2 linked regions of the Homo sapiens genome follow. Each later gene encodes a partner of the first gene's protein in a complex. Each region holds a gene or a part of one and is shown in the gene's direction. Other genes may lie near its edges. The genes, in order: SDCBP and SDC4.

Evidence for each region.
Region 2: the proteins of SDCBP (region 1) and SDC4 are in contact, whole or in part, in a crystal structure (PDB 8BLV), measured with the Homo sapiens proteins. Residues at the interface, in NP_001007068.1 of Homo sapiens: Gly207, His208, Val209, Gly210, Phe211, Ile212, Phe213, Lys214, Thr219, Val222, Asp251, Ser252, Ala255, Leu258; in NP_002990.2 of Homo sapiens: Thr193, Asn194, Glu195, Phe196, Tyr197, Ala198.

What each region holds. Positions count from the first base shown.
Region 1 is NC_000008.11:58,551,217-58,555,127, forward strand, and holds the start of SDCBP (syntenin-1), read left to right. Parts: upstream 1-2,044; 5' UTR 2,045-2,087; intron 2,088-3,911. UniProt on the Homo sapiens protein: Multifunctional adapter protein involved in diverse array of functions including trafficking of transmembrane proteins, neuro and immunomodulation, exosome biogenesis, and tumorigenesis.
Region 2 is NC_000020.11:45,334,729-45,338,639, reverse strand, and holds part of SDC4 (syndecan-4 precursor), read left to right. Parts: intron 1-2,719; coding exon 2,720-2,858; intron 2,859-3,911. UniProt on the Homo sapiens protein: Cell surface proteoglycan which regulates exosome biogenesis in concert with SDCBP and PDCD6IP.

The sequences.
Region 1 (3,911 bases):
GCCCTAATAAGAATAGATAGAAGAGAATGTGCTTTATCTGTCTTGTTTTCTGCCATGTGGGGATACAATGGGAAGAATGCCATCTGCACACTCAAAAGTGAGCCCTCACCAGATTTCCAGATGTGCCAGCAACTTGATTTTGGGCTTCTCAGACTTCAGAGATGTGAGAAATAAATTTCTGTCGTTTAAGCCACCCAATCTATGGCAATTTGTTACAACAGCCTGAACTAAGGTACTGTTAGGCCTCTGACTTTGTTCCTCTCCTTTGGTATTGGTTTGGCTCTTCTGGTCTTTCATTTTTCCATATAAACTTGAGAATCAGTTAATATCCACAAAATAACTTGCTGGGATTTTGATTGATTTGATTTGATTGTATCAAATCTATAGATTAAGTTGGGCAGAACTGACAGTTAAATATCAAGTACTCCTATCCATGAAAATGGAATATCTTTAAATTTATTTAGATCTCCTTTGAACTTTGTAGTTTTTCTCATTGGAAGTTTTTTTTATTTAGAATTTTGTAGTTTTTCTTGTATAAACCTTTTACATATTTTGTTAGATTTATACCTAAATATTTCATTTTATTTTGGTGCTAATGTCAGTGGTTATTGTTTTTAATTTCAAATACCAATTGTTTATTGATGGTATATAAGAAAACAACAGACCATGTATGCAGGTCGACTATTCCTAGTACAGAAATCCAAAATATGAACTACTCTAAAATATGAAACTTTTTGAGTGCTGACATGAGGACCAAGGGAAATGTTCACTGGAACATTTTGAGTTTTGGAGTAGGGATGGTAAACCCATAAGTATATAATGCAAATATTACAAAAGCAAAAAAAAAAAAAATCCAAAATTGGAAACATTTCTGGTCCCAAGCATTTTGGCTTAGAATGAGCCTGTTTTAAACTTGCTCATGCAAACTTGCTATAATTGCTTTTCATTCTGTTTTTTTAGGCGAGGAGTGTCAATTTTTTCCGGATTTTCTATGTTAGATAACCATCTCATCTGAAAGCAAAAAGTTTTATTTCTTCCTTCCCAATCTACCTTGTAATTATTTTTAAATGTCCATTTCATCAGCCTAACTATAACCTTACTGAGAGCAAAGTTTTCATCTTTAGTTGTCACCTCTTTTACACTCAGATTTTTATTAGTTTTGCCATATATTAAATTATTCTGGCACTAATTTAGCTAGAAATAAACTGCTTGTAAATGCTATTTTGTCAAGGACTCTACAGTATTCCGTGGTAACTATGATTACTCTTGGGTAAACTGTGCCTCAGTTTCTTTGTCTGTAATGGGATGTCTTTATAGACTGATGTGAAGACCAAATAAGACTATACATTAAGTTCGTAGAGCTATGGCTGGCACAAAATCAGCCCTCAAGAAATGATCGTTATGTTTTTTTACTGGGAAGCAATTACTTTTGCGCAGCACCACACCTAACTCTCAATAGCGAAGGAATATTAGCTTAGGCGGACAGAGTAATACGCCCCCCACCCCCAACATCCAAATTTCCAACAGAAAAATAAAGCAGGAGTTGAGAAGGGGTCGTGAGAGGAACGTTTCTGAGCCTATAGTGGAGAGGTACAGCAAGCGGAGAGTGAGACTAGGGCAGCAAGTGGTGGAAGTCGAAGGCATCCCAAGAGGGAACAGGGGCTCCCGAGACCTCTTTGAATTGGAGGCGACGAGAACCAAGCGACCGTGAGCTGCGATGCACACAGTAGTGAGTGGGTGGCACGGGGCCCGCGGGCACGAACAGCCGAAGAGCGGAGAAGACTGGGAGCATAACCGCTGGGCAGCGGGCAGCGGACAGCGGGCGGCATGAACCGCCCCACTTTGCCGGATACCTGGAGCTGCAGGAACGACCCACACCCAGGCCTCTTTACCCCTACCGCCCCGTTACCTTGGGGACGGGATCACCCGACCCGGCGCCGTGCGACTGCGCGGGCTGAAGGCGGGGGCGGTGCCATGACGCGCCTCGGGGGCGGTCCTCGGGCGCGCACCGCTCTCTTACACTCGGGCCTCAGAAGTCCGTGCCAGTGACCGGAGGCGGCGGCGGCGAGCGGTTCCTTGTGGGCTAGGTGAGAGGCCAAGGGGGCAAGGAGGGACGCCGGTGCCAGGTCCCGGGCGCGGGGACTTGGGGCAGAGGTGTGACGGTCCCTGGGCCACTTCACAGACTGCATCCTGGTCGCAGCCGTTTTCGCGAGGCAGCGGCGACGCCCTCTCCTCAGGGGGCTCCGCGCCCCTCCCTGCGCCCTGCTGGCTGGGGGGGCAAGTTTGCGGGAGCAGCGCGCTCTTCCTGCCGCGACCCCGCGCGTTTCGGGTTCCTGCCCGGGCTGGGGCTGGGGCTGGGGCTGGGGCTGGGGCTGGCAGAGCCCGGAGGCCCGGCTGGGTGAACGCCTTCAGCCCCCGCCCCAGCTCTGGGGTTCTTCCTGGGACCGTCTCTCGATCCTTGTTTTCTCCTCGATAAGATCTCGACATAAGAAAGAGCCTCTGGCCACGGTTCCTCCCAGTGCTCGGCGTTTCTAGGGCTGTGCTTAATCGCCCTTCTTTTGGGTTATTCGGAAAGTCCTGGATTTGAAAGGAGGAAGGAAGTGTTTGTTTATTGGGCGAAGCCTTGACTTTTTTGGAAGGGGGTGGGGAGAGGTTGTTCGCTTTGAGCTTTTTCCTGGAGAAGTTGGACCTGAGGGAGAAACGTTTCCAGTAGGGTGTGTTTAGAAGGAAATACCCCTGAGATCTGACCCCTGAGATATGATGACTCAGAGCCTTCCTTTCAGGATTTCCTTGTAATAATGGGAAAGGGAAGGCATATGGATGTGGAAAGTTTTCACTTTTACCAAAGTGGTGATTATTGAGTCATGGAGTCTTCTAATGTGTCCATTTTTGAAAGGAGTTTGTAGATTATCTAGTCTGTATAACCACATACACATTTACTGTTATCTTTTCCATTACGTACATTGCTTAGAAAGTACGCTCGGCTTACCAAACTCTTAACATCCGCTTGTTTCAAAAAGAAATCGTTGATTAAAGCAGGAAATTTACCTTGAAAAACAACTGCGGGCCTTTTAAATTAAATTGATTTCTAAATGTGTATGTGATTAGTTAAAACTCAAATTTGTTCAGTCTTTTTATTTTCCTGTTTAAGATTGAGGGATAACGGTAGAAAATACGTCCTTTTGTCTTCTGTGTTACCAACTTAATTCTATAAAATTTGTGCCTTAAATGGTACATAAATATTATAAATCTAGTGGTTTGTGGCACAGAATAAAAAGAAGTAGAATGACTTTTAAAATGGTCAGTAAATAGTCACTCCATTATAAATTAAATTTAACTTTGGAGACATTAACTTTTAGTTTTGGGCATTATAGGAAAAGATGTAAAAAGGGGAAAAAGATGAACAAAAGGGGAAGAATTTGCTAATGGTTGCCGGTTAAATGTACTGTTTAATTAAAGAGTTTCTTAAAATGAGCGTGACAACTATTTTCCCTGTTTTTGCCAGATTTGGGAACTTTTTATAGGTATTAAATGCCAAGAGATTCTAAAAAAGAAAAGCGCCCCCAAATAACTTTGAAATACTTTCTACTTTTAGCAATAGTTACGTTAGCATTTATTAATTTCTTTTCAAGTGCTGCCAACATGTTTTGTAAATGTATTGTTTTTGAGTAGGTAAACAGTCACTTGTCTCAAAATTTAAGCAGCATAAAAAGGTATAAAGTAACAAGTCTTCTGGCAGGCAGGCAACTTTTTTACATTTCTTAGGTATTCTAGGCAAATTTTATATCTACACAGGCAAACATATAAGCTGTATTTGCCTCCTTGCTTTTAACACAAACGTTAACATTTTATATACTGCTTCACATTTTGCTCTTATTTTTCCAGTTAGTGATCATATTTTGGAGCTTTTC
Region 2 (3,911 bases), on another chromosome or scaffold:
CTAATGTAAAACGGAGGTAATTCCTAACAGCCAGTGGGCATGCTAATCCCATGGGTTGTTTTGAAATACCTCTTAGCACTTTCACATACTGAAAGAGAGGCTGGATGCATAAACAACCTTCCATGGCTCCTGGGGGCAGTGAGGGGTGGGAAAAGGTCTCTCAGCCTGAGACAAGTCTCCTGATGGAACTACAGCCCCTGTTGAGGACTTTGACCTGGTCAACAGCTGGCCAAAGTGTACCATTCTTTCTTTCTCCCGGCTAGATTGACCCCCCTACTTAACAGGGCTCCCTTGGAGCCTGGGGCAGGCTGGTGACCCCGTGTACATATGTGTTCATGCGTGTGTTTATGTGTTTGTGGTTAAATGTCCAGGTCAGTGAAGCCTGGGTTCTGGCCCAGTGTGGCTACTTCCTGCTTGTGTGGCCTTGGACAAGTGACTTTACTTTTCTGAGCCCTTGTTTCCATCTCTGCAAAAAGGGACTATTAAAAGGACCTAGACAGGCTGTGTGCTTGGTTAAGGCCTGTCACTTGGGTTCTTGGGGGATTTGCCACAGGAGATGGAGGTAGGAGCACAGGGACCCTGCCCTTAGGTATAGGCACTTGGGCAGCCATGAGGAGCCTTCCTCCTGCTCTGCCAAACCAAAGCCACAGGCACGGGCTATGTGCGGGGGCTTGAATTCCAGCACCAGCAGCCCGGCAGCTCCTGATTCCCGAGTCATGAAGTCATCTCTGAGCAGCACTTAACCTCTCTGGCTTTCCACCCCCACGGGTGCCAAGCGTTCAGCATTCTCCCCACTCCCCGGGAGAGAGTGATTCCTGGCCACTGCCTTCCTTGTGGCCTGACCCCGCTCCCTTCCGGGAATCCAGCATTCTCCCTCTGTGGGGGTGGAAGAGGGTGCATGAGGGTCAGGTTCCACCTGCCTCTCCCCAGAAGCCCAGTGGGGAGAGTACAGGAGTGGCTCTGAAGCAGCTTTCCTGGGCCTCTCCTGCAATGATAATAACCTTATCTTAGGGACAGATGTTCCTTCTCAGACACCCTCCTTTGTCAATGGCAGTCTCAGCTGAGTGAAGGACTGCCTGGGGTGTCCGAAACAGAGACCTGACCTCTTTCTATCCTGAGTTATGTAGCGAACGCTCTGTGTGACCTTGGGCAAGTCCCTGCCCTGTTCCGGGCTCAGATTCAAGTTGTGTGAAACGGGAGGACAGGAGCTCCTTGGGTCCTGGCATTCTGTGATTCTAAGCAGACCCCCAGCTCCTGCAGTTATGGCGTCTGGAGAAGATGGGAATGTCTTTCAGCGGGAGGGGCATGGTGTATTGAACTTAATGAAAAACCCCAACTCTCCTGGCAAATACTAGGCACTTTAGTGTTTGAATTAATTAGTAGAATAATGAACTTTGCTCAGAGCTGCTGTTCTCTGGGCAAACAGAAGCCTGAGCCCAGAAGCTGGAGGAAGGGTGATGGGCATCCAAATGTTTCCTGTGCTCTTGAGGGTACATTGTTCCCACTCGGTGGAGCTACAGGATGGGAGCAGGGTAACTGATGTACTGTAGGGCTGCCCGGGACCTTTGACACTTTCTTTTGGCAAGCGGTTTGGTGGGAGTGGACCTGAGACTCTGTCCTGATCAGCTGTGTCTCCACAGGGTAGTGGCTGAGTGATGATTATGGGTACTGGAGTGGATGGTCTGTGAGGGTAGGGATTGTGCCTCTCGGTGTCTGCATGGTGCTGGCAGCAGAGTAGATCTGTGGGAGATGTTTGGAAGGCAAGACTGAATCCAGGAGTACACTCCTGAGTCATCAGGTCTGGGCAGCGCCCTGACCTGAGGCTGTCTTAGGGTGTGCGTGAGGCAGCCCTGTCTGTCCCGGCCCAGACTGACTCAGCTGGGAAAAGTATCCTGGACTGGGCAAGACCAGAACCAGGAGCCCACTCCCTGTCCTGTGTGAATCAGCTGCCACTGCATCACAGAGCCCTGGAGTGTAGCATCCCAGGGCCCTGTGCATGGAGACTCCTGGCTCTGAAGTCAGGCAGCCCTGCGTATGCAATCCTCGCTCTTCCATCTGCCAGCTGTGTCACCAAAAGAAAATGACTCCCTCGGCTGTAAAAAGAAGTGAATAACATGCCTCCAGAGTTATTAAAACAGGGCCCAGCACATAGCAAGTGCTCGGTAAAGGATATCTAGCCATATTAATAATTTGATTATTACCTCATTTACTGTTTTTATTTTTTTTGAGACGGGGGTCCCACTCTGTAGCTCAGGCTAGAGTGCAACGGCGTGATCCTGGCTTATTGCAACCTCCGCCTCCCGGGTTCAAGCAATTCTCCTGTCTCAGCCTCCCGAGTAGCTGGGACTACAGGCGTAAGCCACCACGCCCAGCTGATTTTTGTATTTTTAGTAGAGACGGGGTTTCACCATGTTGGCCAGGCTGGTCTTGAACTCCTGACCTCAAGTGATCTGCCTGCCTCCGCCTCCCAAAGTGTTGGGATTACAGGTGTGAGCCACTGTGCCCAGCCTCATGTACTATTTTTATTTGCCCAGAATGGAAAGAGACTTGCCTAAGGACACGCGGTGAGTTAGAGGTAGAGTGGGATCCAGGACGCAGGTCTCCAGGCCCTGGCCTGGTCTCTTTCTAGTTTCTGAATGCCCACTTCACTAGCTTTTGGGCATCAGCTGTCATGGAGCACTGGGGATGTTGGCTGATGTGTCTCCTTTCTTTATCTTAGATCCGAGAGACTGAGGTCATCGACCCCCAGGACCTCCTAGAAGGCCGATACTTCTCCGGAGCCCTACCAGACGATGAGGATGTAGTGGGGCCCGGGCAGGAATCTGATGACTTTGAGCTGTCTGGCTCTGGAGATCTGGGTACGGAAGGTGTGCTGGGCAGGCGTAGGCACAAAGCTGGAGGGAGTGGTGGCTTCACCAGCCAGGAGGGTGACCATGCCTTGAGACTTGGATTTTTGTGGGACTTTTCCTAGAGTGCCCTTCTTCCTTCTCAAAAAAAGGGGAAACAAAAGTAATGGATTAACCTATTCCATCCCTGAGAGCCCCTGGGGACAAGCTGTTTGCTGCTTTGAAGTCATTGGTAGCTCTGGGTTTTCTGAGCTCCAGCCTGAACGTGTCCTCATAAGCTCTTCTCTTTTCTGCAGGGCATGGTGGGGGTGGGGTGAGGGTAGGATGGGTGGCAGGACAGGGTGGGAGTGGGGAAGGAGGACCCATAGAGTGTTTTCCTTTTTTTGAAAGGAAAAGTTCCAGCCTGGGCCACATGGTGAGAACTTGTCTCTACAAAAACACAAAAATTAGCTGGATGTGGTGGCATGCACCTGTAGGAGTCCCAGCTACTTGGGAGGCTGAGGTGGGACGATCCCTTGAGCCTAGGAGGTTGGGGCTGCAGTGAGCCAAGATCATGCTACTGCACTCCAGCCTGGGTGACAGAGTGAGACCCTGTCTCAAAACAAAAAAGGAAAAGTAGCAGCTTAGAAGTGGGGATGGGGTGGGAGGGGGCATGAGTGGGCAGAGATGTAGTTGGGAAACCAAGAACAAGTCCCTGCTTCAGTGGGGGTGGGGGCGGGTGAAGGGCCCAAGGCCTCTAGGCCAGACAGCTAATAAGTGTCCCTCCTATGTGCAGAGAGGTGTTAATGATTGCAAGTTTTAGCTTTGCAAGTTTTAGCTTTGGAGTCACATGGTCCTGAGTTCAAGCCTCCATCCTGTGTGAACTGAGCTTCAGTTTTCTAATCTGTAAAATGGGAATAATAAAGATAGTACATCAGTGTTGTGGGGACTGAACTGACTTAAAGCTTTTGGCACCTACCAAGCACTCAGTACGTGTGTGTTTGGTTTAAAAAAAAAATAAATTTTATGGCCGGGCACGGTGGCTCATGCCTGTAATCCCAGCACTTTGGGAGGCCAAGGCAGGCA